Linked DNA regions of Homo sapiens. The protein of the gene in region 1 interacts with the protein of each later gene in a pairwise test. Each region holds a gene or a part of one and is shown in the gene's direction. Other genes may lie near its edges. The genes, in order: MYBPC3, PDE4DIP, ACTC1 and CAPN1.

The links.
Region 2: the proteins of MYBPC3 (region 1) and PDE4DIP interact in binary tests that used the Homo sapiens proteins (3 or more experiments, as listed by UniProt).
Region 3: the proteins of MYBPC3 (region 1) and ACTC1 interact in a two-hybrid assay, tested with the Homo sapiens proteins (2 studies listed by IntAct).
Region 4: the proteins of MYBPC3 (region 1) and CAPN1 interact in a two-hybrid assay, tested with the Homo sapiens proteins (one study listed by BioGRID).

The regions. Positions count from the first base shown.
Region 1 is NC_000011.10:47,330,868-47,335,702, reverse strand, and holds the end of MYBPC3 (myosin-binding protein C, cardiac-type), read left to right. Parts: intron 1-493; coding exon 494-661; intron 662-1,692; coding exon 1,693-1,781; intron 1,782-1,950; coding exon 1,951-2,146; intron 2,147-2,369; coding exon 2,370-2,509; intron 2,510-2,729; coding exon 2,730-2,889; intron 2,890-3,000; coding exon 3,001-3,137; intron 3,138-3,444; coding exon 3,445-3,631; intron 3,632-3,821; coding exon 3,822-3,832; 3' UTR 3,833-3,858; intron 3,859-3,986; 3' UTR 3,987-4,297; downstream 4,298-4,835. UniProt on the Homo sapiens protein: Thick filament-associated protein located in the crossbridge region of vertebrate striated muscle a bands. In vitro it binds MHC, F-actin and native thin filaments, and modifies the activity of actin-activated myosin ATPase.
Region 2 is NC_000001.11:149,029,413-149,033,539, forward strand, and holds the end of PDE4DIP (myomegalin), read left to right. Parts: intron 1-374; coding exon 375-513; intron 514-819; coding exon 820-866; intron 867-1,760; coding exon of another isoform or gene 1,761-1,812; intron 1,813-2,531; coding exon 2,532-2,573; coding exon of another isoform or gene 2,574-2,677; 3' UTR 2,678-3,604; downstream 3,605-4,127. UniProt on the Homo sapiens protein: Functions as an anchor sequestering components of the cAMP-dependent pathway to Golgi and/or centrosomes.
Region 3 is NC_000015.10:34,792,544-34,799,836, reverse strand, and holds the start of ACTC1 (actin, alpha cardiac muscle 1), read left to right. Parts: upstream 1-4,287; 5' UTR 4,288-4,331; exon of another isoform or gene 4,332-4,694; intron 4,695-4,928; exon of another isoform or gene 4,929-5,006; 5' UTR 5,007-5,028; coding exon 5,029-5,157; intron 5,158-5,719; exon of another isoform or gene 5,720-5,995; intron 5,996-6,267; coding exon 6,268-6,592; intron 6,593-7,267; coding exon 7,268-7,293. UniProt on the Homo sapiens protein: Actins are highly conserved proteins that are involved in various types of cell motility and are ubiquitously expressed in all eukaryotic cells.
Region 4 is NC_000011.10:65,184,894-65,191,931, forward strand, and holds part of CAPN1 (calpain-1 catalytic subunit), read left to right. Parts: intron 1-1,023; coding exon 1,024-1,157; intron 1,158-1,276; coding exon 1,277-1,445; intron 1,446-2,321; coding exon 2,322-2,405; intron 2,406-3,061; coding exon 3,062-3,147; intron 3,148-3,520; coding exon 3,521-3,595; intron 3,596-3,692; coding exon 3,693-3,853; intron 3,854-7,038. UniProt on the Homo sapiens protein: Calcium-regulated non-lysosomal thiol-protease which catalyzes limited proteolysis of substrates involved in cytoskeletal remodeling and signal transduction. Proteolytically cleaves CTBP1 at 'Asn-375', 'Gly-387' and 'His-409'.

The DNA.
Region 1 (4,835 bases):
AATGCAGAGTAAAGCTGACTGTAACACTTCTTTGAGCAGTGCGAAATCAGCAACTACATTTTAAAAACATATTTAAGGCCAGGCGCGATGGCTTACGCCTGTAATCCCAGCACTTTGGGAGGCCAAGGTGGGCGGATCACCTGAGGTCGGGAGTTCGAGACCAGTCTGACCAACGTGGAGAAACCCCGTCTCTACTAAAAATACAAAATTAGCCGGGTGTGGTGGTGGGCACCTGTGATCCCAGCTACGCGGGAGGCTGAGGCAGGAGAATCACTTGAACTCGGGAGGCAGAAGTTGCGGTGAGCCAAGATCATGCCATTGCACTCCAGCCTGGGAGACAAGAGCGAAACTCCATCTCAAAAATAAATAAACAAATAAAAATTTAAAAAAACATATTTAAATCCTGGAGATTCCTATCAGAGGAGTGGGCAGTGGGAGTGGGGTGTCAGTGGTGACACAGCCTGTGGCCTTGCCTCCCCCTCCCCACCCCCAGGCTCAGAGTGGGTGGCTGCCCTGCAGGGGCTGACAGAGCACACATCGATACTGGTGAAGGACCTGCCCACGGGGGCCCGGCTGCTTTTCCGAGTGCGGGCACACAATATGGCAGGGCCTGGAGCCCCTGTTACCACCACGGAGCCGGTGACAGTGCAGGAGATCCTGCGTGAGTGCCCCTTTGTGCAGTCACAAGACCCGCCATTGACACCCCAGGCCCTTGGTGTCCAGTGGAGGTGGGGACAGTTGGGGAGGCCCAGAATGCTCTGCCCAGAACGCTGGGCAGAGACAGGAGGGGTTGGAGCCATCGTCCATGCGCTAGGCCTAGGGAAAAAGTGCAGAGAGGGTGGCCAGGCACAGTGGCTCAAGCCTGTAATCCCAGCACTTTAGGAGGCCAAGGCAGGCAGATCACTTGAGGTCAGGAGTTTGAGACCAGCCTGGCCAACATAGTGAAACCCTGTCTCTACTAAAAATACAAAAACTAGCCAGGTGTGGTGGCGCGTGCCTGTAGTCCCTCAACTACTTGGGAGGCTGAGGCAGAAGAATCGCTTGGACCCGGGAGGTGGCAGTTGCAATGAGCTGAGATCACACTATTGCACTCCAGTCTGGGTGACAGAGTGAGACAACGTCTCAAAAAAAAAAAAAGTGCAGAAAGGGCTCTCTTGGTGTATGTCAGTCCCTTAGTTCTGGAACAGGGAAAGTAAAAGCCACAGTACCCAAGCTCTCTTCCAGGAGTGTCTCAGCTCCAACAGGTAAATATTGTCTATGTAGTCAGATTGGTCCCTCTGGGATCCACTTCCCATTCCTTTGTTCCTTGTCCCAACAAAGGGTCCATCTTTTGTAAGGATTGGTTCTCAAAGCTGGAACGAGGCAGCAAACTCAGGTGGTAACAACACAGGGCATAGGGTGTCAAAGCCCAGGCTTACACCCTGGTCTATGACTTACTAGCTGTGTGACTTCAGTCAAGTTGCTTACCCTCTCTGATCCCTGCCTTTTGAAGTGGTGAGGCTCGGGGAAGCCAGCTGGGCTTGGGCAGCCTGGAGTTGCTGTGTTAGCAGGAGCTAAAGGAGGCGCAGGGCCCAGCAGGCAGCTTTTTTCTTAGCTGCAGCTCTCTGGGCCTTGTCTCAAGGGAGGTTGGAGCTGTGGAGCCCCTCAGAGCTGTGGCGGGCCCTCACTTAGCTACCCACTCTATACCCACAGAACGGCCACGGCTTCAGCTGCCCAGGCACCTGCGCCAGACCATTCAGAAGAAGGTCGGGGAGCCTGTGAACCTTCTCATCCCTTTCCAGGTGGGACTGGCCCCCTTCCCTGTCCCCCAGGGGAGAGAGGCTATAGTGTGTTGTTCCCATCCAGTGGACTGATGTCTCAGGGCTGGCCTGATCTGAGGTACCAGAGGCTGGGGTGGCGGCCGGCCCTTGGAGTGATCCAGGTTCAGGGTTAAGCTTTTCCTCCCCTCAGGGCAAGCCCCGGCCTCAGGTGACCTGGACCAAAGAGGGGCAGCCCCTGGCAGGCGAGGAGGTGAGCATCCGCAACAGCCCCACAGACACCATCCTGTTCATCCGGGCCGCTCGCCGCGTGCATTCAGGCACTTACCAGGTGACGGTGCGCATTGAGAACATGGAGGACAAGGCCACGCTGGTGCTGCAGGTTGTTGGTGCGTGGCCAAGGCCTCCTTGAGCCCCCTTGTTTCCCTTCCCTGGGCTGGGCTGCTGGGGCCAAGGGTGGGGCCAGGGGACCCAACCCACAGCTCACATTTTCCAGTCCACTGCCCCAGCAGGCCTGGCCCTGGTTGGCAGGGGTGGGGTGGTCCCTGGAGCCAGTGACCCCCTGCTCACTGTCAGGAGGCGTGGTGACCCAACTGGGTCTGTCTCCCGCAGACAAGCCAAGTCCTCCCCAGGATCTCCGGGTGACTGACGCCTGGGGTCTTAATGTGGCTCTGGAGTGGAAGCCACCCCAGGATGTCGGCAACACGGAGCTCTGGGGGTACACAGTGCAGAAAGCCGACAAGAAGACCATGGTGAGCCCAGGGTCTGGGGTCCCCACGTGCACCCTGCCTAGGCCCGGCAGACCCAGGCCGCAGCTACCCTTCACTGTCCTCACCGTGGACCCCTCACCCTCCCTCTGCTGATCTGAATCCCTCCATAGTAGGGGTGGAGATGCCAAGGGCACCCAGGAGAGGCTCTCGGCATCAGGAAGGGCCTGGCCCAGAGATGCCTCCCCTCCCTCCCTGCCCCCAGGAGTGGTTCACCGTCTTGGAGCATTACCGCCGCACCCACTGCGTGGTGCCAGAGCTCATCATTGGCAATGGCTACTACTTCCGCGTCTTCAGCCAGAATATGGTTGGCTTTAGTGACAGAGCGGCCACCACCAAGGAGCCCGTCTTTATCCCCAGACCAGGTGCTGTACCCTCATTCTTCCAACCAGGGGCTGGGGCAGGGAGGCTGTGGGAACAGGGAGAGGGGCCTAGCTTTGTGTGGCCCTCTCGGTACCAAGTCCTGTCACCAACAGGCATCACCTATGAGCCACCCAACTATAAGGCCCTGGACTTCTCCGAGGCCCCAAGCTTCACCCAGCCCCTGGTGAACCGCTCGGTCATCGCGGGCTACACTGCTATGCTCTGCTGTGCTGTCCGGGGTAGCCCCAAGGTAGGGAACTTTAGGCGCTGGTCCAGGCCGACCAGGAGGCAGGGCTCACAGGCCCCGACGTTGAGCAGTCCTCTCCCCAGCCTGTCTCCCCTGCTTTCTCTCCACCTTGGGGTGTATGGACCGGGTTCCTCCCCCTGGGCAGGGCCATGGTACTCACTCTTGGTTCCATGTTTGTTTCCAGCCTTGGGCATAGTCAGGGACTCTCGTGGGACCCCCCGAGTAGAAACACAGATGTGTCTCCCTGGGTCCCTGCCAGGTCCCCTCTCAGCCTGGATGGCTTCCCTCCCTCTCTTTACCTTATTTATAGCCCAAGATTTCCTGGTTCAAGAATGGCCTGGACCTGGGAGAAGACGCCCGCTTCCGCATGTTCAGCAAGCAGGGAGTGTTGACTCTGGAGATTAGAAAGCCCTGCCCCTTTGACGGGGGCATCTATGTCTGCAGGGCCACCAACTTACAGGGCGAGGCACGGTGTGAGTGCCGCCTGGAGGTGCGAGGTGAGGAGCCCTCGGGGCCAGGGCCTGGGAGATGGGAAGAGCGGGCGGCAGTGGGGACCCTGGGCTTTGCTCCGTTGTCCTCGGCCAAGCACCTGCCCTGGCTGCAAGGGCACGGACCCTGCCACGCCCAGATGGGCAATAGCTTCCAGAAGGCTGGGAGGACACAGTGACATGGCCTCCTCTTCTGCAGTGCCTCAGTGACCAGGCTGGCTCCTGGGGATGGCCAGGTATGTACCACCCGACACCCAGGGCACAAGTCAGTGGCTGAGCCCTGGCCCTTGGTCCTGGGGCAGCCATCAGTAAATGGGAGGCTGTAGGGGCCCTCCATTCACTCGTAAGATAACCTGTGTTGCAGGTACAACCGGATGCCAGCCCCGTGCCAGGAGCCTGGAGGGAAGTTGGGGAAACCCCTCCCTACTGTTGGATGTATGTGTGACAAGTGTGTCTCCTGTGCTGCGATGGGGGATCAGCAGGGCAGTTGTCGGGCAGTCCTGAGTGGGTGTTGCACAGACTGGTCCACAGGGCTCCTGAAGGAAGCCCCTGGATCTTTGGGGTAAAAGGAGGGTGGCCTCAAGAAACAATGTCTGGGGACAGGCCTTTCTGGCCTGCTATGTCTTCCCAATGTTTATTGGGCAATAAAAGATAAGTGCAGTCACAGAGAACTCACTCTTCTCAATTTCGGTGTGCCTGTTTTCATAAAAATGCACAGGGGATGGCCAGGTGCGGTGGCTCATGCCTGTTATCCCAGCACTTTGGGAGGCGGAGGCGGGCCGATCACCTGAGGTCAGGAGATCAAGACCAGCCTGGCCAACATGGTGAAACCCCGTCTCTACTAAAAATACAAAAATTAGCTGGGCAAGGTGGCGCGCCTATAATCCCAGCTATTTGGAAGGCTGAGGCAGGAGAATCACCTGAACCCAGGAGGTAGAGTTTGAGGTGGGCCGAGATCATGCCACTGCACTTCAGCCTGGGTGATGGAGTGAGACCATGTCTCAAAAAAAAAAAAAGAAAAAAGCCCAGGGACATTGATCTTCACAGCAAAGTGAGAGCAGATACTGTTTTTTGTTTTGTTTTCCCGATGATTAAACCAGGCCCAGAGTGGTTTCTGAGTTCATAAAACATTAACGCTAGAAGGAACCTGTCTTCCCCTACAGCATTCACTCTTCAGATGATGAAACTGAGCTGTGACAGCGGAAAGTGCATT
Region 2 (4,127 bases), on another chromosome or scaffold:
CTCACCCCAGCATAACACTTCTGAACTCTCAATCTTACCTGTGAAGGGAGAGTGACAGAACTGATATCAGGACTAAAGCAAGGTCCTCTTCAGAGTTGGGAGTTTGATACCAGCCTGAGGCGAGGTTCTCTTAAGCTACAGGTGTGTAGGCCTGTGCTAGTCTGCATGGGGAATTCCAGAGTCTCATTATTCCTGCCTAATGGCCTCATCCTGAACTGTCCTCAGCTGGAGGTATCCGAGGCTGTGAAGGAGGAAATCCAGTTCAAGAGAGTTGAGAAGACTGTAGAATCCTTCTTTGAATTGGAAAGAGCCACAAAGCACAGGGTGCTTTAGGCCTTCTGCCTGGTCAGTAAGAGTCTGTTCCTCTTATCCAGGGAGAATCAACAGAAAGGGAACTTCTGGAACTGAGAACCAAAGTATCCAAACAGGAGCGACTCCTTCAGAGCACAACTGAGCATCTGAAGAACGCCAACCAGCAGAAGGAGAGCATGGAGCAGTTCATCGTCAGCCAGCGTAGGTTCCCTGAGAGGGAATGGGGGAAGAAACAGGCAGTCTTCCCGATGCCCCACTTGTGCTGCAGATGAGCAGTGACCAGGGGGGCTTGGGGATGTTGGGAGTTGAGACTGATTTGATGTCCCCAAACCTCCTGTACCAGGAGCAATTGTGGCTGCAGAGGGAGGGGAGGACAGGGGGTGGATAGAAGGAGACTCCAAGCTGAATAGCCAGAAAGAAATAAATGCTTTAGAATTCTCATGCTAAGCAAGTAGGGTTAATTTCTGCTGGTGGTTTCTACTCTGTGGTGCTCTTTTGTTGTTTCAGTAACCAGAACACATGATGTTTTAAAGAAGGCAAGGACTAACTTAGAGGTAAGGAAACTACTGCACCAGTCAGAGGCACCAAGCCTGTCCCCCACCCATCACCATCCGTTAGCAGATCTTGTAGGTGACCCTTGGCCTGCTTTGGCCTTCCAGGAGAAGACTTGGGGTCCACTTGCAAGATCACAGGTCCTCAGTGAGCATCCTGCTAGTTTCTGTCCCCATCACCCTCCCACCCCGTCAGCTCCTGCCCCTGTATCTTGGTTCACTCTCACATTGTCATCATCTCTCCTTTTTACTCCAATTTTTCTTCTTTGAGGCCAAGTTCAGAGACTGGAGAAATGCAATTCAGCTGACTCTTGAAGTCATTAGACATTCGGGAGTCTGCCTCTGAATGAGCTTCTAGTAGAGGGATCTTGAGGCCAGTTATGTGTTCTACTCTTCATGAAAAAGTAAAAGCAATTTGCAACCTAATAAACTGATTTCACTGCACATTCCCGGGTTAAGAACAGCAATTTGATTTTGCTATATCTTTAAGTAACATGACAAAAGAGATCTGTTGGGTCTCATTGGTCTAAAAGCGAATTTGTTAATAAATAACAACTGAACCTTCAGGGAAAAAATGTTATATATGTACCAGACATTATCTACATTTACTTAAAACACTAAGTGTTAATCATTCCCTAGGAAGTGCTTTGAAGAAAAACTTGAGGTATATGAAATGGTTAAAAATCAGAAACTAAACCTTTTAACATGGACATCAAAGCTTTGCCATAAGCAATTCAGCATATTCCTAGAAATGTTTCTAATCCATAACCTGAGAGAATGTTGATCTCCATAGTGTGAAAATGACTTGGGCCAGTTTAACTTGCTCTTTTTTTTATTTTTTCACTAATTCCCTTTTGTTTTTCTCTGATAATTCTTCTCTTTCCTGAGCCTCTTTAGAGCAGCACTTACAGGATTGCCTCTGTAAAGCCTTATTCCTGTCCCAGAAAAGGTAATCCAAAAAGTCTCTAGTATCCACTAAAAGGTAACCCAAAAATCTCTAGTATCCACTGGCTTTCTCCAGTGTGGAAGCTTTCCCCTCCACCTCCCATAGATCACTGGAAAGGACCCGAGGCCTCGGTTCTAATCCCTGGCTTATCACTAACTGCTGTGTGGCTTTGGCTTGTCCCTTAGTCTCTGTGAGACTGCTGCACCCTCATCTGTCAAAGATGGAACTGGACTTAGTTGAGCTCTGAGGTCCCTGTGGACTTGGCCCCTCCACACCCTCATTATGGCAACTGGACATAAACTTAACAGAGGGCTTCCCAGCAAAATGTCCTCTTCTTCCTACAAACAGGCTGTTTCTATATGTGCATGTTTCATGCTAAGCACTTCTTTCTTGGGTGGACATGGCAAAGGCCTCTTTCTGCTGAGACAAAGTGATTTGGAGAGTCACCTGGCCCCTGAAGGGGGAGTGGTAGGATCCAGCCACCCAGTGTGCAGTGAATTGGAGCAGGGATCTCAGCACACAGGGAGGTGGGGAGGCTCCCCCTAACCTCGGGCACCTGTTGCTCCTCCAGACTGCAGCGCATGCTCTTAGCTCATCCTCTTAACTGGCTCTCACCGTGCTCCTGGCTTTGGTCACCACGTAGCTCTCACTCCAGCTTCAGGTAGCCATCAGTAGGGCCTGGCAATATACACTGATTTGGTTTGTTTTATGTTTGTCTGCAGGTGAAATCCCTAAGGGCTCTGCCATGTACTCCAGCCTTGTGACCCTTGCCTTCCAGGAACCATGCAAGAAGCGCAGCCACCAGAAGTCCTTAAAACAGCAGGAAAGGTGGGCCTGTCCCCCTTTTGTGCAGCTACCTATCTGCTGAGGAGCATCTGGGCCTCATTCCTCCAAGTCCACGGGAGGGTCCAGAAGAGGGAGTCAGAGATGTATCCTGGTGGAGCTGGGAGAAAGGCAGAAAGCCTTTCTGACGGCTATGGAATACGATTAGCCAAGGTCCACTTGGCCCAGCACTAAGAAAAAGATGCGTAGTTTGCACAGAAGGTTTTGTGATCCTGCCTCTCAACAGCCCCAGCAGCTTGGGAACTAGCAAGAGCACATTTCTTGCCTCATCAGCTGTCCTGAGATGGAAAACTCAGTGAATATAGGACCCTGATTCCGATGAAAGGGGCACGTGGTCCCAATGCTGGAGCTCCTCTGGCAGGTTCTAAAAGCACACTACTGAGCAGCGGTGCCCTGCCGGACACTGCTGGCGGGGGCTCAGTGAGCACTACTCACAGATCCACACCTGACCCTGTTGGGTCGAGTCAGGCTGGGCCTTGGTCTGCACTGTAGCACCTGTGTTCTTTGAGTTCACATCATGAATGTGGTGACTTCCCAGATACCATCTCAGGCTTAACCTAGCACATCCTATTTCTTTTCTTCTATGATATCCAAATTGGACTGACCTCACTTCAAAGTTGCTGTCCCATTTTGTCACCCTATCTTATCTCGGGGAAATTGCAGACTGATGGCCAGACCAACTCTGTTGAAATTCTTGCATAGAGCAAACCTGTGCTCATTTTTAAGTGGCATGGGAGAGGCCCCAAGCCTAGTAAAGCCTAGTCTGTGTCTTCACAGTGCTGGTAGAATGTGTTTGTGTGTATAAATATATGATATAGATTTATATATGTTGCTAACGCCATATATTGAAGGCCAACATAACTGGTGGACAGGGTGGGTGACAGAAAATGAAAGTCTTTTTGGTGATTGTTAAAGCAAAATGTGTATAAAGAAATAAATAGTTTTTCTTTCACTGCTTTGTTTCCCATTTCTGCACCAATCCCTTGACAGTATAAAGAACTGGAAAGAGAAAATGGGAAAGACAAACTGTGTTTAAGAAGCATATAGTCTAATGCTTGAACTCTAACTTTAAAAGATTAAGGTTTTCCTTCTTTGTCATTTTGTAAGAATCCCCAGTCTGAAAATATGAAAGAATGGTTCTTAAACTTGGTGTGCCTGAGAAGCAGCTGTGGAGATTATAGGAGCTACCTCCTGGTCTCCAATCCCAGGAGATTTAGTTGGTGTGAGCCCTAGAATCTGCATTTTTTTAATATAAGCACCCCAGGTGATTCCATTACATGTGGGCTTCAGATCACAGTTTAAAAAACAGTGTTCTATAACATTGAATCAAAACTAAAACTACATTTAAGAACCTTGAATCAAAAAGTATGTCATTCCATAAACATTGATATAAAAATTTTAAAATATTCCTTGGGAAAAGTTCTTAGCTACATGCTTTTGATTCCCAAGATTAAAATAAGCTATCACTTCACAAT
Region 3 (7,293 bases), on another chromosome or scaffold:
GTGTAGGCAAAGAAAATAGGAATGTTTAGGAAGGCTAGATCCTCCCCCCGGTCTGATCTAAACCGAGGCTCTCCCTCCCCCGGCACACAGAATGCAGGAGGGACAGGAGGTGATGGGGAGGGCTCATGGGGAGGAATTAAGTGTGGCTCTGTCTGTTTCTGGCTTCTCTGTAAATACTGTGACACCTCCGAACGGAGGAACAGCTGAGATAAGTGACTGCTAATCCCCCAGTGCCGGGGAGGAGGCTGGGCCGCTCCCTTCCAGATCCCAGCAGATGGTGGATGAAACAGACTTCCCCCGAGGCAAGGGCAGTGGGAACTGTCCCACCTTCTGTTCCTTCAGTTTGCCCTGCACGTCTCCCTCATGGCCAGTCCACGCCGAAAAGGGCTTCACTGGCCCTCAAGAGCCCTGGGGACCCGCCCCAGCTCTGCCATCCCACTGGGATCTACAAGGTCAGCCAACCTGGACTCCAGCCAGCACTGGCAGCTTGGGCAGCATCCAGCAAAGCTCTGTGGGCTTCAGAGAGAACAGCCAAGCAGTGCGGCTAAGTTTTTCACTCTGCAGAGAAACATACCTAGGGGAGAACAGTGAGGGCTCATTTAAAATGCAGATTCAATCTTCCAGGGTGGAACCCAGGAATCTGAATTTCTATGAGGCAGTCTAGGTAATTTGGCTGGAGGCGGTTCTAGCATCACATTCTGAGAAATAGCAGACCAAGTATATGTGAAGGTATTTTTGGTGGTGGTTGGGAATAGGGCTTAAAATCAGGTGCCTGAGTTTGAATTGTCACTCCACCATTTGCTCACCTGTGTGACCTCAGACAAAAAAGGCTCAGTGGTTCCCTACCTCATAGGATATAAACTGGTCTTTCTCAAACTGCAGGAAGCACAATTTAGTCACAATTAGCAATAAAAAAAATAACACTCGGAGACTGCACAACAATGTGAATGCACTGAACACTTTTGAACTCTGTATTCCTAAATGGTTAAGATAGTAAATTTGATATATGCATATTTTACCATAATTAAAAAAAAATCTAGAATGTACCAAAGAGGAGATGTCATTTTTTTCTTCTTTGTTTTGTAATTTTTTTTGAGATGTCATTTTTATATGCTTAAAAAGCCAATCTCAATTTTCAAATTAAGTGGATCTGTAAAAAGTAGTTTAAATAAAACTCAGTCATGAAATCTTACTTTCCTGTTGGTTTACATTTTAAAATATATAAAATAGGGTTCAAAGTTTTTAAAATGTGGAAATCAAGGCCAGGCTTGGTGGCTCATGCCTGTAATCCCAGCACTTTGGGAAGCTGAGGCTGGCAGATCAGTTGAGCCCAGGAGCTTGAGACCAGCTTAGGCAACATAGTGAAACCCCGTCTCTTCAAAAAATACAAAAATTAGCGGGGTGTGTTGGCATGTGCCTGCAGTCCCAGCTGTTTGGGAGGCTGAGATGGGAGGATCAGCTAAGGTGGGAGAATCGGCTAAGGTGGGAGGATCACCTGAGCCTGGGAGGTTGAGGCTGCAGTGAGCCCTGATTATACCACCGCACCTGATTATACCTGGGTAACAGAGGGAGACCCTGTCTGAAGCAAACAAACAAATACATAAAAATAAAATAAATAAAATGTGGAAATTGAGTGGTAATACAAATAGTAAATATCAAACAATCATAAATTTTTAAGAAATAAGCATTCGTTCTTGCTACACACATAACACATATGAAAATACACTGTTTTGAGTGTTAGGCAATGAAATTGAGCGGAATAGGAAACACATTTTTCAAACATTTTAAGGGTGAATATTGTTTCACAAAACTGCTGTTGTGTCCTGCACTGTTCTACTGGCCTCCCACTAGAGCCAATGGTCCTGAGATGAGGGGGCTGGAAGTGGCCTCCTAGATCCCCGAAGCCTGTGCGAAGGACAAAGGTCAATAATCATGGTTTTCCATTCCTGAGAGTCTTTGCACCTATAGCAGTCATAGTGGGAGTCTCTCACCAGCCACTCCCATGCAGAAACTCTTTCTCTCACACAAATGTTCATAAACTTCAGTTCTGCTCTACTTTTAAAAACGAACAACACATCCTGGGGAAGGCTTTCTCGGCAACTCTTTCAGACCTCCATTCCCTTTTTGTGACTATCCTGCTGATACCTCTTCTTCCCTCCCAGTTTGTGCCATAGCTGTCTGACTTTTCTGTAATTGCCACGGAGGATGAGTCCTGCTCTGTTTTATTTATCACTGAATCCTTAACTAGCACAGTTCTTGTCCTGCAAAGATTTGCTGAATCAATGAAGAATGAAATCAACCTGATTCTTTAAAAGGCAGAGCTACTACTGCCTCCAAAAGTATCATTATTACACATACAATTTGCTTTGTATCTTCCATATTACTTACAGCATTTGTTTCTAACTATTACAATACACAATAACTTCTGCAACAAGTGTTATGGTATCACTTTTGAGAGGGAAAACTTGGGGCTTGGGAAGGTTAAGTGTCTTGCTCAAGACCAAACAGATAGTTAGTAAGTGATAAAGGCAGCATTTGAGCCCAGTTCTGTCTGGCTCTGACACCAGTCCCATTTCTCCTTTTCCTTGGTTTTTCTATATTTTCACGAGACAAGGCAGTTCTACTCTTGGCATCCTGTCAATAAACATTTTCACTGTAAAATGCCTGCTGTGCTGCACAGAGTAATCTCAGCCAGGTCTCTTACCCGACCCCACCACACAGCTGCCCATCGCGTTTCTTCTCCAGACCAACCCAAACATGGTTGGGGAGTTCAGAGGGGAGGGCCCAGCATTCCCCAGTCGGGACAAGTATCTAATCAGCAGGCCTCCTCAGCATATCAGCCCAAGACCACTCTAGAGAGAGATGCCAGTGCCCAGTTTTCTATTTTTAACTGGTGTGAACTGGAGGAAAAACACAAGCATTAAAAATCAAAGCTCCAGTCAAGAACTGAGAATGCAGGGCACCCCAGGGCAAACTAGTGATCTGTGTCCTTCTTACATCTCCCTCTTCCTTCTCCCTCTCCTCATTTCATGTCATTTTTCTTTTTCCTTCTCAAAAGTTCAAGATCCTGCAAAATCTGTTTTCCACAGAGGAGATGATATCTGTCATTTATGCCAATGCTTCTCACACTTTAATGTACATACCAAGCAAATGAGGATCTTGCTGAAAAGCGGATTGGGATGGCTCTTGAGATTGCATTTCTAGCTCATTTCCAGGTTATGACAATACTGCTTGTCCATGGGCTGCACTTTGAGTAGCAAGGATTGGTGTAGTCCTATAGTTTAAGTTGTTGCTATGTTCTCCATCAAAGTATTTGCCTTTGCAGTCTTGTCTCCACCTGGAGTGAGGGCCTCTGCCCCCAGTTTAAAGATGCTCATCTCCCCACCATCAAGTGGGCAAGCTACTTTTGGCATTTGTTCCTTTATTCACTTTGGCAGCAGGGGATCCTTTTCTGGCCTGAAGACCAGAGTCTGAATTTGAGCAAAACCCTGCAGCATGGATGAGGGCTACCCAATAACTGGGCTGGGGTAAACCTGGTCCCTTCTCCAGCAAGACTTGGCCAAGCTCTCACAGAAACCCTTTTCTGACTCTTCCCTGGCCAGACCCTGATCCATGCATGGGTTGGAACTCGGGTGGCCTTGGTTAATCTCAGCTTTCTGACCTAGATGAGCCCAGCACCAGCTCTCTGAGTAAAGCCATTCAGGCTGGCGGGGACTAGACCAGAAGGGTGCCCTGTCCTGGGTGCCCCTTTTGCAGCCACTCAGATGTGCTGCTGCGGTGTCCTTTGTGCTGGTGGCAGCCCTGGAAGATGAGAAGCCGCTGTTGCTCCCCTGCTGCCCTGGCCCAGCTGTCAGGACCCCTCAGCAGAGGGCAGGGCGCCAAGCCTTCCCACTGCATGTGGCTTATTGTCCCCAAGGCTGGCAGGGCTGCGGAGGACCGAATCCACAGACCATCCAGGGAGCACCCACACCCCAGAAAGGGGGAGGGGTGGGCTGGCGTCACTTAGTCTTCCCCTGCCCCCTACCCTTCAGCGCCTGCCCCTCCCCAGCTCCCTATTTGGCCATCCCCCTGACTGCCCCCTCCCCTTCCTTACATGGTCTGGGGGCTCCCTGGCTGATCCTCTCCCCTGCCCTTGGCTCCATGAATGGCCTCGGCAGTCCTAGCGGGTGCGAAGGGGACCAAATAAGGCAAGGTGGCAGACCGGGCCCCCCACCCCTGCCCCCGGCTGCTCCAACTGACCCTGTCCATCAGCGTTCTATAAAGCGGCCCTCCTGGAGCCAGCCACCCAGAGCCCGCTGCCGCCGGAGCCGAGCCGACCCGCCCCGCCGACGGTGAGTCAGCGCCCGGCCCTCCGCGTTCACTCCTCGCCTGGTCCGCGGGCCGCGCCGGACGCCAGCCCCGCGCCGCCACCTGGCCAGCCCGGCCCGCATTCAGCCAAGGCCCCAGCTCCTGCCGCTCTGCGACTGCCTTTTTTTTTTTTTTTTTAAAGCCCACACTTTTTGATTTGGTTCTAACTTGTTTTGTCCTGGGCGTTGGTCCTCGCAGGACCTCGCAGGGGCTCTAAGAAGGGGAATTTTGTGGCTCCCCAAGGGGCTTTTGGGTCCCTACTCTCGTGCGCTTTCCCCTCCATCTGGGGCACAGGCATGGCGATATGGACAGGGCTGGAGATCGAGTTCCCAGTTCGTGAAAAGGAAGAAAGTTAAAGGGCTGGGGAGGACTAAGGGGCTGGGTTTCTTGGGTCCCTCCTTGCACCTGGCACCCTAGCTGGAACTCCTGGCCAGGGAGCCTGGGTGGATTCCTCTGCCCTTCTCTGTCCCCAGTCTCCTCCGCGGCTTCTTCCCTCCCTTTTATGATTCGAGGGGAAGGGAGGTGGCAGGAGTGTTCCCCGCCCAACCCCCTGTCCAGTCCCCACAACCCCCTTCTGCTCTGTCCTGTCCTCTGGGTGCGGAGAAGGCCAGCTGCACAGGCAGCTAAGCGTGGTCCGCCCTCCCCTCCTCAACCTGCAGAACCCCCTGAAGCTGTGCCAAGATGTGTGACGACGAGGAGACCACCGCCCTGGTGTGCGACAACGGCTCTGGGCTGGTGAAGGCCGGCTTTGCGGGCGATGACGCGCCCCGCGCTGTCTTCCCGTCCATCGTGGGCCGCCCGCGGCACCAGGTAAACTTCCCGCCGAGCCCCCCGTCCCACTCGGGACCCCTTCAGTCCAGCGATCTAGGAAATGGCTCTCACCTGACCCTCTTGTTCGATGAACTCTTTAGGCCAAATTAAGAGAAGGCTGATTGACTTCAAATCCAAGCCAAGGCAAGCAATACTCCACAAAACCCCAACATACTGAGGAATGTACACCTGAGTGGCACGCCTCTAAAAGGGTCCCACTCCCTGGTGTGAAAGCCACCTGCTTCTCTCCACTAATGGCCTTTTGGACTTTTAGTCTTTAGTGTCTTCTCTGCCTTATACACTTCATTTTCTTCCTTGTCCTCTCTTTTCAGTCCTGTTTAAAACTTCTAACAATATCACCTCTCCCAACCAACCAGGACCAAATCCACATTCCTCTCTCATGTTCACAGCCAGTTTACAGGGTTCCCCAAAGGTGTAATCAATCTATCTCCTTCCTGGCTGTTGCATTTTTAGAAGCCAGGCGTGACAGAGGCAGCAAGTGCCATGGTGATAGTGACATACCACCTCGTTTGTTAAAAGACATGCCATGCTCTCTGGGTTTGTCACATGCCTGGCCAGACAGGCTGCCAAGCAGGAGAGCTTAGTCCTCAGAGCTGGTGAATGACTCCAGAACAGCTCTGGACAGGCTGAATTTCACTGTTGGAGTGAGGATGGCATATCAGCCCATCATTATGTGTTCACTTGAATGTCAAAATCTTTTTCTTAGGAGAAATACAATGTGTCATTAATTCAGTCATTCCAAAATGCAGTCATCTATATTCCAGTTGACATGGGTGATGAGCTTAATAACTTAATGAAGGCATATGATATTTTTAAGGTGAGGTGAGGCTCTGCTTCTTCAGTGGAATAGCTTCATTCTCTCCTGAGTTATATTCTCAACAATAGAATTATACATCTTTGGGGGAGTGGGGAGAAGGTAGAAGATTGATTTTTAAATAATTCTTCTAAATTGGGGTAAAATCGTATTGCTTGTTATTTCTGGTATTTAAATATGTTCCTTGACTTGGGCAGTTAGATATAAATGGACAAGACACTGATTATATTCCTGACATGGTGAGAGCATGATTTTCTCATTTTTTCTTCTCATAGGGAGTTATGGTGGGTATGGGTCAGAAGGACTCCTACGTAGGTGATGAAGCCCAGAGCAAGAGAGGCATCCTGACCCTGAAGTATCCCATCGAGCATGGTATCATCACCAACTGGGACGACATGGAGAAGATCTGGCACCACACCTTCTACAATGAGCTCCGTGTGGCTCCCGAGGAGCACCCCACCCTGCTCACAGAGGCCCCGCTGAACCCCAAGGCCAACCGGGAGAAGATGACTCAGATCATGTTTGAGACCTTCAATGTCCCTGCCATGTACGTGGCCATCCAGGCAGTGCTATCCCTGTATGCTTCTGGCCGTACCACAGGTATGCTGGGCTCTGGGGACAGTTACTGATGAATCACATTCCCAAGTCACCGACCTTGCTGTGAATCAGATCCCCCAGTTGAAAAAGGGATAATCCCTTTCCTCCCATTCCCTAGCAAGGTCTGTGCTAAGAGAAAGAGTTAACAGTAGTGCCCTGAGGTTAGTTTCGGAGCACAATTATTGTTGGAGCTGATAGCTTGTGGAGATAGGTCCTTCCCTCATTTAAAGCTCAGCGCAGTGTAGCAGCTTGGAGTGCAGCAGTCATTGTTATGTGTTTAAACCATCACATCACCTGGGCAAGCATCCCCAAGGAGAATACATTCCATACAGGGTCTGAGTCAAAAGAGAGAGAAACGTGTAAGTTCAATAGGAGCAAAGAAAAACACCCTTGGGTGCTTACATAATGTGCTCGTGGCTGACAAGAAAGATGGTCATTTGAAAGTGTCCTCGGGAATTTTTTCTACTATAATAGTTAAAAAGATGAGCTGCAGTTTGCTTCAGATTTAGTATTCCTGATGCGCATTTTTATTCTTTGTGTGTAAGGAATCTAATTTTATCTGGATCAATGCCCATTGCTAGCATCTCTTAGCCAAGATTGGAAGCGGGCTTTGCCGTGGCTAGAGCAGTGGTGTTGTCCTCAGGAATTTACCTTGTTCTTGTCTACTTCCCCGGGCAGGCATTGTTCTGGACTCTGGGGATGGT
Region 4 (7,038 bases), about 18 Mb from region 1:
TTTATGGATAGGGAAACTGAGGCTCAGAGGCGATAACTTTTCCAGGATCATGTAGCTAGTATGTCTCGAGCATACATGTACATATCAAGTATACACATGTCTATATGTGGTATGCATGTATTAGTATACAGCAAATATGCAGGTATCTAGTATACATTGTACAGGCAAAGGAAAGCATCCCCTTAGCCCTCTGAAGGTTCACTGAAAAATCAACTCACAAAAGGAGGTTAGTAGGAGAAATGGCATACAAATTGATTAGCCTGCAGCGTGGGGTCGGGAACCACAGAGTGTTCACCCCAGCCCCACAATGGGTACAGAAGCCTATATACCATCCTGAGGTTACAGGAAGAATGGGGGCTCGAACATGGCCAAAACCAGTTTCTGGTGGTAAATCAGGTTATAGTGGCAAGACAGACTATGGAAGGGGGAGAAAAGGGGGCCTGGGTAGCAAAGGCAGTCTTGTTATGTAGATGAAACCTCACAGGTAGCAGCCCTCAGAGGGAATAGATGGTAATTGTTTCGTTCAGACCTTTAAAGGGTGTCAGGCTCTCAGTCTGACAAGGGAAGGCCTTAGAGAAAGCCTGGCTACATCAATGCAGATTTTCTCTACAGATGCAAATCTCCCCCACAAAAGACAGTATTACAGGGCTACTTCTGTTTGCAGACCCTCTGAACAGCTATCTCAAAATATGTTGAAGAAGTATATTTCAGGGTGAAATACTTTGATTTCCTTCAATACCTAGATACATGTATCTAGTATATCTGTAGCATACATGTATCTAGAGGTACACATGCATCTAGTATGTATCTAGTATATGTGATTTAGTATACATGCATCTACTATGTATCTGGTATACCTGACCTAGTATACATCTAGTATGTATCTAATTTACATGATTTAGTCTATGTGTATCTAGTATGTATCTGGGATGTAGAATCCTGCATCTAGGAAGGTAGGGGTAAGGATGGAGCTCAGGTCCGGGGGATTCCAAAGCAGGTACTCACCGTGCCCCTCCCCCACAGCTGTGGCAATTTGGGGAGTGGGTGGACGTGGTCGTGGATGACCTGCTGCCCATCAAGGACGGGAAGCTAGTGTTCGTGCACTCTGCCGAAGGCAACGAGTTCTGGAGCGCCCTGCTTGAGAAGGCCTATGCCAAGTGAGTAGCGGCTGAGGGGGCAACTCCAGCTTCCAGCTCCCCCTAGGGGTGGGGGCTCATGACTGTCTTCTCAGAGGGTCCTGCTTGATGCCAGAGTGCTGACCTGGAGCTGCCCACAGGGTAAATGGCAGCTACGAGGCCCTGTCAGGGGGCAGCACCTCAGAGGGCTTTGAGGACTTCACAGGCGGGGTTACCGAGTGGTACGAGTTGCGCAAGGCTCCCAGTGACCTCTACCAGATCATCCTCAAGGCGCTGGAGCGGGGCTCCCTGCTGGGCTGCTCCATAGACGTGAGTGTGCCCGGCCCCGATGCTTTGGTACCCTGGAACCCTGGTATCCTGACCTGTCACATTTTCTAAAATCCCCACCCAGGCTCCGCTCCAGACCCTGTCCTGCACTTAAGCTTCATCTCTGGATGCATACCCTGCCTCATCCATCACTTCCACCCCCCATGCCTGGTGTCGCTCCTGTCCTCACCTACCCACTCCTCCCCCAAAACTTCACACCTCAGCTCTTTCCTGTGCTTGTTTTCCCGTCTACCATGCTGTTTCCCTCATTCCTGTCATCTCAATCCATGCCATCCTCTGTCCAGTTCACCAGCCTCAGATTTCATCTCCTGGTCTCAGTTCCCACCCATCCCTAGCCTCAATCCCACACTCACTCCATTCCCACCCTTCCCTGCTCCTCTGTTCCCACACTCAACTCCGCTCCCCAGTCCTCAACGCCAGACTTGACCCCAGTATCACTGCCATCCGCAGCTCTAACCCCAGCTCCCATTCCCATTTCTAACTGACTCTTCTGTCCTCACGTCCTTCTCCGTGAGGCCCACTGAGGGCTGTGTGGCTCTGGTGGGCTGTGCACGGCTGTGTGTGTGCACATGCATGTTCGCACAGGTTCTGGTCAGCCCTGGCCAGTAGCAGTGTCAGCGGAGTGCCTGGGCTCCCCTGTCCCAGTGGCAGCATTGGTGGGGTACCCAGGCTACCCCTCTCCAAAAGAGCAGCATCTATATGTGGGGGTGTCTATAGGTGGGATCGGGGTCCCTGCTTGCTTCTCCTAGCAACTGTTGTATGTGCAAGTGGGAACGTCCAAGACCCTGAGTGCTGGGGGCTCATCTGATAGGGCGGGGGGACCTAGCCACTGACCACAGTGTGTGCCTCTTTCTGCAGATCTCCAGCGTTCTAGACATGGAGGCCATCACTTTCAAGAAGTTGGTGAAGGGCCATGCCTACTCTGTGACCGGGGCCAAGCAGGTACTGCCCTGGGTGGGGCCTTCCCTGAAGGGCGGTTCCTGCCCCCTGGCCTGTCCTTGCCTCTCTGGCACCTGACCAGGGCTGTGGAAGGTGCTGGCTCCTCCTTTCCCCTCCTGCAGCACCTTATCTCTCTTCTGGGGACACCCATCTGAGATGCCTATCATGTCCTGCCCTGACTGACTGTAGTTCATGTGTGCAGCTGCCTGCCTGGGCTGTGAATTCCAAGAGGACAGGCTTCATCTGGGTGCTGAGCAGGGCTTGGAGAGGATGAGGGTATGGGAGGCGGAGTGTTAAAGTGCGTGCATGGGCCAGGTGCACTGGCTCACACCTGTAATCCCAACACTTTGGGAGGCTGAGGTGGGCAGATCACCTGAGGTCAGGAGTTCGAGACCAGCCTGGCCAACATGGTGAAACTCTGTCTCTACTAAAAATACAAAAACTACCTGGGTGTGGTGGCAGGTGCCTGTAATTCCAGCTATTTGGGAGGCTGAGGCAAGAGAATTGAATTGCTTGAACCCAGGAGGCGGAGGTTGCAGTGAGCTGAGATCGCACCACTGCACTCCAGCCTGGGTGACAGAGCAAGACTCTGTCTCAAAAAAGAAAAAAAAAAAAAGTGCCTGCTGGAAGCTAGCACTGACAGGAGCTCTGGCAAATAGGTGAACTACCGAGGCCAGGTGGTGAGCCTGATCCGGATGCGGAACCCCTGGGGCGAGGTGGAGTGGACGGGAGCCTGGAGCGACAGGTGAGGGGCAGTGGGCACTGTCTGGAGTGCCTTGGGGAAACTGTTAGGTGCCCCGACATTTCTGCTCGGGACTCTACCAGGCCAGGCTGGACTCAGGATTGAGCAGAGGGGCCCATCTTCGCGCGACTGGGTCTGGGGGACTGCTCTGACAAAGCTCAGGCCGTGCGGGCCCCTGTGCCCAGCCGTCGGGTGTGTGCAGGGCATCAGACTGGCCCTGATGAGACCACCCCCTAGAAGCGGAACCTTGGCGCTTGACCTTGAGGAGGCCACCTGGGCTGGGCCGGGGGAAGACAGGCCAGGGTAGACAGGCCCCAGGGACAGAGGCCAGGCAGGTCAGTGCCCACCAGCCCTGGCAGAGCCCTGCTCCTCACAGCTCCTCAGAGTGGAACAACGTGGACCCATATGAACGGGACCAGCTCCGGGTCAAGATGGAGGACGGGGAGTTCTGGTGAGCGCCCCCTCCCCTTCTACCCCACCTCTCCACCCCTACACATCAGCTCTGTGCCCTGACGGGCTGTGCCTCACCTGTGTACCTCCCACCTCAGGATGTCATTCCGAGACTTCATGCGGGAGTTCACCCGCCTGGAGATCTGCAACCTCACACCCGACGCCCTCAAGAGCCGGACCATCCGCAAATGGAACACCACACTCTACGAAGGCACCTGGCGGCGGGGGAGCACCGCGGGGGGCTGCCGAAACTACCCAGGTGCACAGGGGCGGGCTCTGGGTCTTGCTGCTTCCTGGCTTAGGGGCTCCAGAAGGCACGTCATCTTACTGAGCCTCCGTTTCCTCACTTGCAAGATATAGGCTGATCTCTTGAATTTGCTTTGAGGAGTAAAATATTAAATGTCCTAGTAAATTTTAAAGAGGCATGCTTGACTCACCGTCTTGGGGCCTGAGCCCAGGGTGCTCATGAGGGGCAAAGATCTTGTGGCCATCCAGCCACCTGCCTGTCACTCCTTTCCTGGGCCCTTCCCTCCTGCCTTCGCTTTTTTTTTTCTGAGACAGAGTCTCACTCTGTTGCCCAGGCTGGAGTGCAGTAGCGTGGCCTTGGCTGACTACAACCTCCATCTCCCGGATTCAAGCAATTCTCCTGCCTTAGCCTCCCGAGTAGCTGGGATTACAGGCACCTACCATACCCAGCTAATTTTTGTATTTTTAGTAGAGGCAGGGTTTCTCCATGTTGGCCAGGCTGGTCTCGATCTCCTGACCTCAGGTGATCCGACCACCTTGGCCTCCCAAAGTGCTGGGATTACAGGCGTGCGCCACTGTGCCAGGTCCCTTCTTGCCTTCTCTTGCCACCTTTCCCTGGGCTTCTAGATCCATGTGGCTGATGTGGGCCACAGCCTGGCCTCTCAGTTCCTTGTCACTCTCACTGCAGCACGCTTTTTCTCTACCTTAGCTCAGCCCCCACCATGAGGGCACCAGAGCTGCCTTGTCTTGCAAACACCCGCTCTCTGACCTCCACCTTCGACTCTTTCCACTCCCTTAGTCTTCAACCCTTCGACCAAGCCAGTCCGTTGAACCCATCACTTGCGTACCATCCTGCCTCTCCCATCTTGCCTTCTCTCCTTACCTAGGTTAGAGCTATCATTTTAATCTTGTTCCTACAAACACTTTCAGTTCCCTGGCCCCTGTCTCCCATCATCTGGCACAAAACCCATCTCCACTGGCTTGGGAACCATTGAGTGTGGCAGGAGAGAAATCACATAACCGATGCCATATTTTCCCTGTAAATTCTTAGCCACAAATCTCAAATGAGCATTTTCCATAATCCCCAGCAATTCCACTACTGGTTAGTAACATTTCCACTCTCACCTCGATATCTCCCCACTGTTACTCTCACCTTCGGGCCTGGCCTTGCACTTCACTGAAAAGATAGACTTCATCCTGCAGGACACCTTGTGTTCCCACCTCCAAATCCCCCAGCCTTCTGCACCTGTGCCTGTGTCCTCATCGCCTCCCCACCTGCGACAGTGGCAGAACAGTCCCTGTTCATGGGGACCCCCACGTCTGCTCCAGATCCCATTCTCCCTCACCTCTGAAAGCATTTGCTCCTTCATCTGTCACCTCTCTCTCCAGTGTCATTACGGAGAGTCCTCTGTCTTAACACAAAGCAACCCTCTCGACCCCACTTCCCTGTTCATTTCTCCGCCCTCCTTCAAAGCACAATTTATCAGGAATTACCATACTCCCTATTTCCTTTCTCACTTCTGCTTCATTGCTTAACCCTTCCCAGTCCAGCTTCATCCCTACCATGCTGCTAAAACCACCCTCTCAAAGGTCACTTAAGCTTTGGCCTTGCCAGATCCGCCGCTGCTCTGTCCTCCTGTGCTGCATCCTCAGCACGGCTCCCTGCCCTCTGTTTTGAAGCATTCTTCTCCCTTGTAGGGATCCAATTTCAGTCTTTCCCCAAATAGATAACCACCGTTCCCTGTACCATTTATTGAGAAATACATCATCTCGTCTCTCCCCAGCAGCACTAGCGCCCTCAAGTAGTCCTGAGGTATGTGTTGGTCTGTTTCTGGACTCACCATTCTGTCCCTGGGTCTATCCCTCTGCCGATAACACATTGAATCCATTACTACAGATGTGTAAGTCCTGCTGTTGGACAGGGCAAATTCCTTCTTCAAGAGTCTCTTAGCTGTTTTTTTTGTTGTTGGTTTTTTTTGTTTTTGTTTTTGTTTTTTGAGACGGAGTCTTGCTCTGTTGCCCAGGCTGGAGTGCAGTGGCGCGATCTCGGCTCACTGCAACCTCTGCCTCCTGGGTTCAGATGATGCTTCTGCCTCAACCTCCTGAGTAGCTGTGATTACAGGTGCCCGCCACCACATCCAGCTAATGTTTGTATTTTTAGTAGAGACGGGGTTTCACCATGTTGGCCAGGCTGGTTTCAAACTCAAGTGATCCACCTGGCTTAGCCTCCCAAATTGCTGGGATTACAGGCGTGAGCCACTGCATCTGTCTTAGCTGTTCTTGACCTCTGTTTTTCCAAATGAATTTTAGAATCAGTTTACCAAGTCTTTTGAAAAACCATTTTGAGATTTTAATTTGGAATTACATGAAACCTATAGACCAATTTGGGGAGACTTGACATTTTTATAATTTTAAGTCTTATCCAAGGATATGGTGTATCTCTTCATTTATTTTGGCCTTTAATGTCTTTCAATAGAATGTTGTATTTTTTATCATAAAGAATTTATACATCTCTTGAGATTTAATGCTAGGTACACTATAATTTTGTTTCTATTATAAATAGTATGTTCTTTAAAATTACATCTCCCAAGTGATCTTGTTGCTCATACGATAACATGCATTTGACCTTTTAGATGTAGTTTTTATATCCAGCAAATTTTTTAAAACTAATTAATCTTACTGATTCATCTGTATGTATTTTTTGGCACGATCTTAGCTCACTACAACTTCTGCTTCCCTGGTTCAAGTGATTCTCGTGCCTCAGCTTCCCGAGTAGCTGGGATTACAGGCGTGCGGCACCACACCTGGCTAATTTTTGTATTTTTATTAGAGACAGGGTTTCACCATGTTGGCCAGGGTGGTCTCGAACTCCTGACCTCAGGTGATCTGCCTGCCTTGGCCTCCCAAAGTGCTGGGATTACAGTGAGCCACTGCGTCCAGCCCTTTTTGGTTTTCTAATTAGGAATATAGCATCTGCAAATAATGACAGATTGTTTCTTCTTTTCTAATTCTTACAACTTTTGTTACTTTTTCTTGTCTAATATGCTGCCTAGAACTGTAGAGCTTCCTGCTCTTGTTCCTCCCTTTTTTTTATTCTTATTTTTAGGAGCAACCCTATTAACTAAGCCTCACTCTTAAAGGGGAAGTTTTCACCACTAAGTACCTTTCTAATCTAGGTTTTTTGTGGATACCTTTTAT